3 linked regions of the Homo sapiens genome follow. The protein of the gene in region 1 purifies or fractionates together with the protein of each later gene. This does not show direct contact. Each region holds a gene or a part of one and is shown in the gene's direction. Other genes may lie near its edges.

What was found.
Region 2: the proteins of MME (region 1) and TMEM164 purify together in Homo sapiens (affinity purification with mass spectrometry; one large-scale study listed by BioGRID and IntAct). This does not show direct contact.
Region 3: the proteins of MME (region 1) and ACSL4 purify together in Homo sapiens (affinity purification with mass spectrometry; 2 studies listed by BioGRID and IntAct, with this or other methods). This does not show direct contact.

Annotation. Positions count from the first base shown.
Region 1 is NC_000003.12:155,114,819-155,118,468, forward strand, and holds part of MME (neprilysin), read left to right. Parts: intron 1-175; coding exon 176-337; intron 338-1,660; coding exon 1,661-1,741; intron 1,742-1,845; coding exon 1,846-1,941; intron 1,942-2,049; coding exon 2,050-2,168; intron 2,169-3,650. UniProt on the Homo sapiens protein: Thermolysin-like specificity, but is almost confined on acting on polypeptides of up to 30 amino acids. Biologically important in the destruction of opioid peptides such as Met- and Leu-enkephalins by cleavage of a Gly-Phe bond.
Region 2 is NC_000023.11:110,001,594-110,005,343, forward strand, and holds the start of TMEM164 (transmembrane protein 164), read left to right. Parts: upstream 1-1,520; 5' UTR 1,521-1,585; intron 1,586-1,907; 5' UTR 1,908-2,181; coding exon 2,182-2,571; intron 2,572-3,750.
Region 3 is NC_000023.11:109,681,138-109,684,787, reverse strand, and holds part of ACSL4 (long-chain-fatty-acid--CoA ligase 4), read left to right. Parts: intron 1-1,121; exon of another isoform or gene 1,122-1,301; coding exon of another isoform or gene 1,302-1,424; coding exon 1,425-1,652; intron 1,653-1,891; coding exon 1,892-2,069; intron 2,070-3,412; coding exon 3,413-3,522; intron 3,523-3,650. UniProt on the Homo sapiens protein: Catalyzes the conversion of long-chain fatty acids to their active form acyl-CoA for both synthesis of cellular lipids, and degradation via beta-oxidation. Preferentially activates arachidonate and eicosapentaenoate as substrates.

The DNA of each region.
Region 1 (3,650 bases):
AGAGAACTATACACAGATAGTATTCCTCATCCCCCTGAATTGACTTATATAAAAAAGAAAACGGAGCATCCGACAAATTGATGCAATCAAAAGGGAGCAATAAGCCTTTTTCTCCTTTTAAGCCTCTTAAGAAATAAACCCATCATTTTATCTAGTGTTTTCTCTGCTCTTGCAGCTGCTCGACTGATCCAAAACATGGATGCCACCACTGAGCCTTGTACAGACTTTTTCAAATATGCTTGCGGAGGCTGGTTGAAACGTAATGTCATTCCCGAGACCAGCTCCCGTTACGGCAACTTTGACATTTTAAGAGATGAACTAGAAGTCGTTTTGAAAGGTTAGTAGAGATTGTGTCTGTGCATCAAAGATTTCTCTCTTAATATGTTCATTTTTTAAATATACAATTGTTAGCCATTACAAGGAATGTCACAGAAGATTAAAAAGTTAATAATCCTTCCAGGATTTGTGTACCACCACCAAGTCACTCTGATAGTGGCAGACACTGAAATTAATGTGTTGACATCTCTTAGCATTCCTGCTTTCATTTGTAGGTATGCAAATAATAAAGCGGTATCATCTCTAGAGATGGCAGGTTTGGTTTTTTGTTTGTTTGTTTGTTTGTTTTTTGAGATGGAGTTTTGCTCTTGTCACCCAGGCTGGAGTGCAATGGTGCTATCTCGGCTCACTGCAACTTCTGCCTCCCAGATTTAAGCAATTCTCCTGCCTCAGCCTCCCAAGTAGCTGGGATTGTAGGCACCTGCCATTACACCCAGCTAATTTTTGTATTTTTAGTAGGGACGGGGTTTCACCATGTTGGCCAAGCTGGTCTTGAACTGACCTCAGGTGATCCACCAGCCTTGGCCTCCCAAAGTGCTGGGATTACAGGTGTGAGCCACTATGCCCAGCCAAGATGGTAGTTTTATGCCATTTTACAGAAGAAAAAAAATTAAATGATTGGCACAGAAACCTACTTCTGTAGTCTCCCTACCCAAACCCTGTGTTAAAGTTACTGTAAGATGTTACTAAGATTTGCCTTCCCAGCACAGGTATATTCTAACCTGGCTAAGACTGTCTCCCTGAGAAGTTAAGAAATCTAGCCAAGTCCCTCCTATCCTTTGTTCTCTGTTCTCCCCTCTTCTAGAAGTTATTTTGTAGAAGAACAATTTTTGCTACTTTTTAACATTGAAACAAGTAGGACAATTCAATTCATTCATTTGGAGCATGAACGGTACAGTCACACAAAGATAATTATTTTCCAGCCATCAAAAAGACTATTCATACTAAATTCCAAATTCCTCTGTGTTATTGTTTTTTTTTAATCTCAATTTCAAGAAAAGTAACTGTTACCTATGGCAGAGCCGTATGCATCACTGTTCATAAAAAAAAAAAAAAGATAATCTAGTCAAAAGGACTTTCATCTAAATTGGCTGATTAAACTGACTCCCAGTTCTGTGCTAGGAATGATAATCTGGTAAGGGGTTTGGTTTTTCCTATAATGTTTTGGAACTGGGGGGAGGAAATGAATGTACCTCCAGAAAAGCAAGGTTTTTTTTTAACTGAACCCACTTTGCAAATGTTAATTACTGCAAATGAGCAATTATGTTTGCATAGTGCAAATGAGCAATTATGTTGATGCATTTTATTAAATGTCCTATTTCAGATGTCCTTCAAGAACCCAAAACTGAAGATATAGTAGCAGTGCAGAAAGCAAAAGCATTGTACAGGTCTTGTATAAATGAATGTAAGTGCTCTTCATTTGATTTCATTAGGAGTATATATATATATATATTGGTGCCAAACTATGCCTAGATTTCTAATTGAATTTATGTTTGTTGTTTCCAAAAGCTGCTATTGATAGCAGAGGTGGAGAACCTCTACTCAAACTGTTACCAGACATATATGGGTGGCCAGTAGCAACAGAAAACTGGGAGCAAAAATATGGTAAGGCAATTTTCCTACTAAAAAAGAAATTTCCATGTAAAATCTATGTTATAATATCATTAGTGAACTAAAGCTTCTAAAGATATATTTTATCTTTTATTGCTTTAGGTGCTTCTTGGACAGCTGAAAAAGCTATTGCACAACTGAATTCTAAATATGGGAAAAAAGTCCTTATTAATTTGTTTGTTGGCACTGATGATAAGAATTCTGTGAATCATGTAATTCATGTAAGTTTGTGTGTCAAATAACTAAAGTTACCTTTAAATTGTAATAAAACTTCCACATACATTGTTGTTATTGATATTTAGAAATAATGCTATTTTCAATTGAATTGAATAAGCAAGGAGGTAGTATATCCATGCTCTGTCCCTAATACCTGGAGTTCCAATTTTGAAAGTATTTTCTTAATGCTGTTTTCGACATTCACCCCTTGCTTCTGCTACCTCTGTTTTAGATACCTCTCCCTTCACAAAACAAATGATAAGAAGGGCTCCAGGCCCCTCCTATTCAGAAAAAGTTCCTAATTTCTTTGTATAGTACTTGAAAGGAGCATGCTTTCGTTTATAGAAGTAATGCAGGTCTAGAAACCAAAAAATAATAATTGCTTTCAAAAAGAACACAGAAAAGGGATTTTAAACATCATTTTTTTCCTCACTAAAGAGTATCTGTACTTTTTTCTCAACTAAAGGTAAATAAAATGCCTTTCTTTTAAAATGGATTTATTGTATTTTTACAAATGTAAACAATTTGATTTAGGTGTCACCTAAGACTAGATTAATGACTATGTTTGGAATGTACTGAAAAATATAAAGAGTTTTTCTTTCTTCCTTTTTTTTTTTGTTTTTTTTTTTTTTTGGTTTCCTGTGTAAGAAATTATACAAAAAATTGCAGGCTACTGAATCACCTAATCATATCTGTGTCACTATTGCATAAATCTTTATGGTCGTTTTTGTTAAAATCATGAAAGGAATTGAACCCAAATCTCCTGCAGTGGGCTCTCTCTCTTCTGAAACTTTCTCCTTGCAGGATCACCTTGAGGACCAGGGGGTGGGGAAGGATCAGGGCCCTTCATGTGGAGATATCTTCTGGCTCTTTCCATACCAGTTCTTTGGGTTATGTTTTCTTTTCTATTGGCCTAGGCTCTCCACAGCTGCTAGGATTCTCTCTTTAACCCAGAAATGCTCTGTTTGGCCTCCACACTCATGTTGCCATGCAGTGAGTAGGAAACAATCTTGCAAAGCTGCAGTATGCCCAGATAGCTCCCACTTGGGTATTAAACATGGACCAGACACGTTAGCGCAAAACTGAGTTTCCTCTTTCACACCCTTAACTGCTATCTGGGTCTACTGAGGTTCTTCTGAGCAGAGCAGCTTTGAGGAGAACCAAGGAGAAGTCGCCTCCATTCCCTTAGGGTAGAGAATCTTAAAAAACATTTTCTGGCACAAGTTACATTAGCTAAAAGATTCTGGAGTTACCTTAGAGGTTTTCCACTTCTCCCCTTCTCCCCATCCATCCAAATCAACTTGAAGAATATTAACCCACTCCCACCAATGAAAGGGGATCCCAACTAAGGGTGGAAGCAGATGAGAATGTTCCCAGGGGAGCACATTAGAATCTCAGGAAGCTGAGAAATCTGTGAATATGTAATTTAGAAATTTCCACGTCCTAGAATCTAACATGTTTTTGTTCACTTGCACCTTCTGCTCTGC
Region 2 (3,750 bases), on another chromosome or scaffold:
GGAAGGTCCTGAGAAGGTCCTTTTACTGACCCTTGTCTCAAGAAAAGCAAATAGCCGATCGGTAAAAAGCAGCAGGTAGGAAGAGGGGATTTTATTTCCGTCAGTTGCCCTTATCCAGGTTTTGGGCTTAGTGCTGCTCCTCCACACTCATATAGTCCTGGCTGGCTTTTCCACGCATAGGTTAGGAAGCAACTGCTCTGGGGAGGGGGAAGGGGGGAAGAGGGGGAGGGAAAGAGGTCACGGGAAGCCTCCCTTCCTCCCACTGGCCTACCATTGAAGGCCTGTCAGGAGAAAGGAGAGAAGTGGGAGAGGGAGAGGGTGTGGCAGGGGTGGTCTGTGTGGCAAGAGGTAGAGAGAAAATAGTGGATCAGAGCAGGAGGGGGAGGAGCAGGGAAATGAAGCTCCTGTCCTAGGCACTGAAGTGTGGAGTGGGGCTGTGGCTAGAAAGGGGAGAGAAGATGCCTTTCTGGCCTTGCATGAGTCGTGGCAGAAAGGAGGAATCGCGAAGAGGAGCCGGCCATACCCAGCACACACCCCGAAGCCAAGCTGCTCATTACTAGAAAGGCTTATTCCCCCACAAGAAGTTAGTGCGGGCCAGCTAAGTGCCTACTATGTGTGCAGTATAGAAAGAAGTGCCCTGGAGAACCAGGTCGCGGGAGGCGGAGCCAGTCAACAGGGCTTCACCGAGGGGGCGAATTCTGTACACGGTTGTGAAGGAGGGTGGCTGTGCACGCGTGCAGGCTCCGAGTGCAGAAGACGAGGCAGGCCAGGGAGGAGGCGGAAGGAGGCGGAGCCTGAGCCGGAGGAGGGAGGAGGAGGGAGGAGGAGGAGGGAGAGCCGAAGCCGCGGAGGGTGGGAGGTGTGAATGGTGGACGGGTGAGGGGAGTGCCAGAGGCAGAAAAGGGAAGGAGGCGAGGAGGAGTAGTCGTGGCCCGAGGGCGTGTGGTGGGGCGAGAGCTGAACTGGACGGGAGGAGGGAGGCAGTGGCGGTGGCAGCGGGGAGGGGGAGGAGAGAGGGAGGGGAAGAAGGAGGAAGCGAGCGCGGCTGCTGCAGGGGGAGGAAGACGGGGAGGAGGAGCCGTGCGCCGCGGCGGCGGCCGCCAGGGGAACCGAGCGCCCGGCGCGGAGAGCGCGGGAGCGGAGCAGTAGCCCGATCCGGGGCCGCGGGCCGAGCTGCCGGTGAGTGAAGCCCCGAGGGGCGCGGCGGCCGGTCCCCGGGGCTGGGCGGGAGGCGCGGGAGGTTGCGGCGCCGGGGAGGAGGGAGGGGGGCCGGCTTTAGTCCAGGGGCCGGCTTTAGTCCAGCCCCCGGCTGGCCCGGCCTCCCGCCTTCCCTCTGGCTTCCTCCCTCCGCTGCCTGCGCGAGGGGGGCAGGTCCCGGGCGGGCCGCGGGCTGGGGGTGGTGCTGCCCGGAGGGCGGGCGTCTAGGGCCGGAGGGTGGAGCTGGGGGTTCGGGGGTGTACCCGGGGGCGGGAGGCTGGACAAGGACGGCTCTAAATTGGCTGGAGGGGCCCGTCGGCGGCGAAGTTGCTAGCTGGGGGCAGAGACGGCCACGCGGTTGCAGGAGTAAGAGATCCCTCTGTGGCGAGTGCGTGAGACGAGGAGTCCGGCGTCCCTGCCATCCCCGTCGCCCTCCCCGCCTGCTCGGCCCCGCTAGCTCCTCTCCTTGCCTCCGCGTGTCCCCTAGCTCTGACCCCTTTTGGCTCCCGGTTCGCTGCCGCAGCACTGCCGGGTCTCCTTGGCCCCCGCCCTGACCCTTTCGGCCTCCGGCTTCCCCTGACCCCTGCTTGCTTCGCCACTGCCCCGTTCCCGTTTTCTTCCCTCGCTAGTTACCCCTCCCGCTTCCTAATTCCCGGTGCAATTGCCTCTTTGAGACCTCTTTTTTTTTTTTTTCCTCTCCTTCCTTTTAGATTGGCCAACGGCTCCTTTCAACCCTGCCTCGTTGGTGGCCACTGGAGAAGCGCGGGGGGCTCCCCCAGACAGCCGTGGGGACAAGTTAGAGCCAGCACTTTACCCCGGGCCTTGCGTGTAGCTTCCCCTCCCCTACTCTCGGTGCCCTGGTGTCTGGAGGGGGGTTGTGGGGGTGTGCCCGCCTTACATGGTCCACCACCCGGGCAACCCTCTGGGCTTGTGTTCCATCTCACTCTTGCTTCCTGTACTGTGGTCAAGGGGAACCACTGCATCATGTCCCGGTATAGCTACCAGAGTCTCCTGGACTGGCTCTATGGGGGCGTGGACCCCAGTTTTGCAGGCAATGGGGGCCCCGACTGTGCTGCCTTCCTCTCTTGGCAGCAGCGGCTGCTGGAAAGTGTGGTGGTCCTGACCCTGGCTCTGTTGGAGATCCTGGTGGCCCTGCGGCACATCCTGAGGCAGACGAAGGAGGACGGTAGGGGTAGCCCTGGCAGCCAGCCAGAGCAGGTGACCCAGCGGCCAGAGGAAGGCAAGGAGAGCCTGAGCAAGAATCTGCTCTTAGTAGCCCTGTGCCTGACCTTCGGGGTGGAGGTGGGCTTTAAGTTCGCCACCAAGACCGTCATCTACCTGCTCAACCCCTGTCACCTGGTCACCATGATGCATGTGAGTCTGTTGACTTTTTCCTGGGCATCCTAAGTGATAAGAGTCATTTATGTGCTCAGGACACTCCATAGTGTACAGCACCTCATCCCGGCGGGCAGGGGGACCTTTAAAAATGATTTTCCAACGAGTGGCTGCCTTTGTGCCGATTTCAGGTTTGGCTTTCTTTCACCTTTGCACAGTGCGTCAGCCCCACAGTGGAGGTGAGGAACCTTGTGCCTGAACCCTAGGAACGACTGGCACTCACCCTGGCTGCCCCTCCCTTCCAGCCCAGCCCAACCCTGCCGTGCCCTGGGCTTTCACAAGCAGGAATTCCAGCCCCAGCCAGGTGCCCTTTCTGAATCACATCAGTGGACCATGACCCAGCTCCCTTGCCTTCTGTGGTAGTTAATTTCCCAGGGGCCTGGTGACACTCTTTCCTGGAGGTGGTCGCATAAACTTTCTCATCTACACTGTGGTACTTTGGGGAAATACTTTTACAGGTTTCTCTTAATGACTCTTTCATTTGGGAGTGTATGCTCTTAGAGTGAGGTCTGCCTTTGCATTTTGAGGCATTGGAGCAGCACCAAGCTCCTACTAAATGAGTTCTGAAGCAGGTCCCCAGGCTGACATGTGTACTTTGGGCTGGTGATCACTATGGTGAGAGGGTATTTCTTTTTTTGCAAACCTCTCCATCCTATTACTGTCATTCTGTCTCCTATGGTCATAGTCCAAGGGTGCTTAGGAAGCTGATTTCTTTACCTCATCGACTTCCACCCATTAGCGGTGCTAAGGAAAACAAATGGGATTGAAAAGGCAAGTTGCCAGATACATAAAAATAATCTGGGTGAGGACCAAGAGTGAGACTGTCTGTATTCAGCCTGTGTGGAGAGATGTTCTAAAGCTATAAAATCATGGAGGAGGAGGAAGAGGAGACTGGGAGAGCAATCAGTCTTTTTTAGATTTCAGGCTGTGGAAAACCGGGTGTGTTTTATTCAGGGGCAGTTTTGAAACCTGTCATTAGCATCTTTACTGCCTTTATGTTTGTAGAAGGTTATTCTTTGGAGACTTGTGACAGCCTAGCTTGGGGCAGGAGGTTGAGATTATTATCTCCATTTTACAGGCCTGGAGGGGTTTAGGAATGGCAGGTCATTTGCTTGCAGCCAGAAGATGAATTAGTGCCTGGGTTAGAAAGCAAACTCA
Region 3 (3,650 bases), on another chromosome or scaffold:
CATTCCTCTTTCATTTCTAGATGCCCAACATAAGGTCCAGCTTAAATCTAATCTCCACAAAGCCTCTCCTAGTTACTCTTGGCCATTTTGCACTTCCTCTGAACTCCTTTTGCATTTATTGCTTATACTACTGCCTACACTGCACATGGTAGTTATGTATTAGTTATGTATTACCACAAGGCTTTTCAGTGGAAATGCTTTAGTGGTCACCTTGGGAGTTGGGATTCCGGGAATTCTGGGGCAGGACTCTGGACATCCCCAAACCCTGTTTTGGCCAGAGCAACTCCACTTTAGTGTTATATATGGGCAGTTTCCAGTAGTGTTTATTAGAAGAGATGGTTTAATTGCACCCCCTGTCCCCGTTCCCCCAAACAGTTGCAAAAATACTGGATCTATCTTGTGTGATAGTTGACTCATAAGTGTTAACTTATAATGGCCAAGGGCCAGGAATTAATACTACTTCAGACTTGTATTACCACTCCTAGGCAACTGGTGCAGTTTTGAGCACAAAGTGGACATGTAGGAAATGATTTTACAATTGTATTGCTCCCATGTGGGAAATAGTAGATAGTAAATAGCATTACCTGAGAAATTTACCTTAATGAAGAACTCAGAATAAGGTTTCTGGGTTGACCTTTGAGAAATAAATCTAAGTTGATAGTTTCTGCCCCACCCCCCCCTTTGGATATAAACCTAACACTATTTAAAGATGTCTAGTTTACATGCACATGTTTAAGAGAAATCTTATTATTGGCATACCCTATTCTACCAAAGTTTTGACAAACTTAAATATCATATTCATGCATTTGTGTAAGCATTAAGGTTGTTATTCAACTCACAGAATGATATGCAGAGTACCAGTACACCTAGAAACCTAGAAAAAAATAAATTCAGAAGTTGATGTGCTCAAAGACATTTACGTCAATAATGATTACAAATGGAAAATGCCAGCCTTTCAGACCAGTTATTTCAGCTTTCTGTAATTAATTGTGTAAACTAATAAAGACCTGAGTATTTAAATCAATTGTGCTATCAACTTGTTAATATTCTTTTGTTTTTGTTTTTTGTTTTTTGTTTTTATTTTTCCTGCTCTCTGCTTGGTTCATTGTCATCACCTACAGGCGTACTTTATTGTCGGCTTCCAAAGATTACTAACTTTTATCTGTATCACTAAGATTGAACTGCCTTGGCTGTACTGCTATTCTTACTGCTGCTTCTATTATTGCCTTCTTCAGCACAATAAGGCTTTCAAAAGCCAAAGAATAACAAGAAATAAGCACCATTTTAGAAGCCTTTCCACTATGAAACTTAAGCTAAATGTGCTCACCATTATTTTGCTGCCTGTCCACTTGTTAATAACAATATACAGTGCCCTTATATTTATTCCATGGTATTTTCTTACCAATGCCAAGAAGAAAAACGCTATGGCAAAGAGAATAAAAGCTAAGCCCACTTCAGACAAACCTGGAAGTCCATATCGCTCTGTCACACACTTCGACTCACTAGCTGTAATAGACATCCCTGGAGCAGATACTCTGGATAAATTATTTGACCATGCTGTATCCAAGTTTGGGAAGAAGGACAGCCTTGGGACCAGGGAAATCCTAAGTGAAGAAAATGAAATGCAGCCAAATGGAAAAGTTTTTAAGAAGGTAAAGTATTTTGGTGCTTTTCATTTATGTTTTAAAGAGGAAGACACATTTGTTTTATCATAAATCGAGTGCGTTTTAAGTATGCTGGCATTCTATTATAGTGCTGTGTAAAACTACTCAGAAGCCGCTCATAGCTTCTGTATGTTCATTTAAGAGCATTTTTAGAGTTTTATGCTTTGGATAGTATTTTAATTGCTTGTTTGAATATACTAATATTAGAGAATGTATCACTTTAACAGTTAATTCTTGGGAATTATAAATGGATGAACTATCTTGAAGTGAATCGCAGAGTGAATAACTTTGGTAGTGGACTCACTGCACTGGGACTAAAACCAAAGAACACCATTGCCATCTTCTGTGAGACCAGGGCCGAATGGATGATTGCAGCACAGACCTGCTTTAAGTACAACTTTCCTCGTAAGTGCCTTGTGTTTTTGGAGGGGGGAGAGGAGGGTCTTTGCTTGCATGTGAGAATTGTTTTGAGATGCTCTTGTTTTCACAGTAGGTGTTGTTTAGCCATTTTACACATTAATTATGTCCATAATACGGCATGTAATATTGTGGCTAAAAGATATCCGATGACTCCTGTTAAGTATGGTAACTTGTAAGAACTAATATGGGAATTGGCAGCTTTAAGGGATGTGATTTACACTTTTATTTTCCAATTGGAAATGAATTGTAACTGAAAGAGTTGGAGTTTGGGGGTATTTTGGGGGGGTGATATACAAAGAGTAATGATTAAAAGAACAAAAAACCATTTCTCAGGATAATTCAAATTCATTGCTTCACTTTGAGACCTCTTATTTGACTTATTCTATTTTACGTGTGAAATATGCATGTGACAGCTGGAATTGGCATTAGATATGTTAGAAAGTAAAATTGAGTATATTTCTAATACTCAAGCATTTGTTGTTGCCATTGTTTAAGAAATAAACAATGTATTGTCACATACTAAGTACTCTGTTGTTTGTTGAATGAAATATAACACTGTAAGTTAGGATTATAGAGCTTAAATTTCAAACAAAAAATAGATAATATGAAAATGATCCCCTATGTACCCATTACCCACTTTCAACGATGAACAGCTTGTGAAAGTGGCTATTTTTAACCACATTGTTTCTGGTTACCAATCTAGAGCTGAATTTTCAGTTCTTTCTAAGTTTAGCAGATGTCCTTTGATTCTAACTGATCTTGGTTTATGTTATCTCTGGTGGCTCCTAAGGAGTAGATCTCCTTGATCTCTCTAATTAAGGTGTGGAGGTCACCAATCACATTGGACATTGGACTCACTAAAACAGCTTCTTAGAAGGAGTAAGAACATTATCTGTGGCTGATCTTATGACTTAAGATCCTCAAGATTTTCAAGGACTTATCCATTCTTTGGAGGCTATGGCCAATGAAAGTGTGTATCAAGAAGAAGCCCTAGCTGGGCCAGTCTGACCTGAATTAAGAGTTCAGCCAGTACCTATTGGCCTTGAGCATCTAAATTGACAGATTTTTGATCAGCTGTGGCAGTGCGAGTGTTTCTGGGTTTCTTCAGGTTTAGGAAGTGAGAGTTCTGGGAATTTGTAAGGAAAACTTTGGGCTCCCAGGGAGTTTGAAGCAAGGTTGAAGGATGGTAACAGAGACTATGAAATCAAATTAAAATATACAATGTCTTTGTGTCTCTAAGTGTAACTATTATTAAAGACTGACTTCAATAATATCCATTTCTAATAGATGTTTATTACTTAATATTTGTGTTTATTTTTATTATGTAGTTGTGACTTTATATGCCACACTTGGCAAAGAAGCAGTAGTTCATGGGCTAAATGAATCTGAGGCTTCCTATCTGATTACCAGTGTTGAACTTCTGGAAAGTAAACTTAAGGTAAATATGAAATTTTCTTTTAATTCATGGTTGCGTTGTCTGGCAGGACAGAAAAATATTCATTCAGTAAGTGAATTTTTGTTGCAGGCTTAAGTTTAATAGCTGTTTTTTTTTCTTTCTGCTCAACA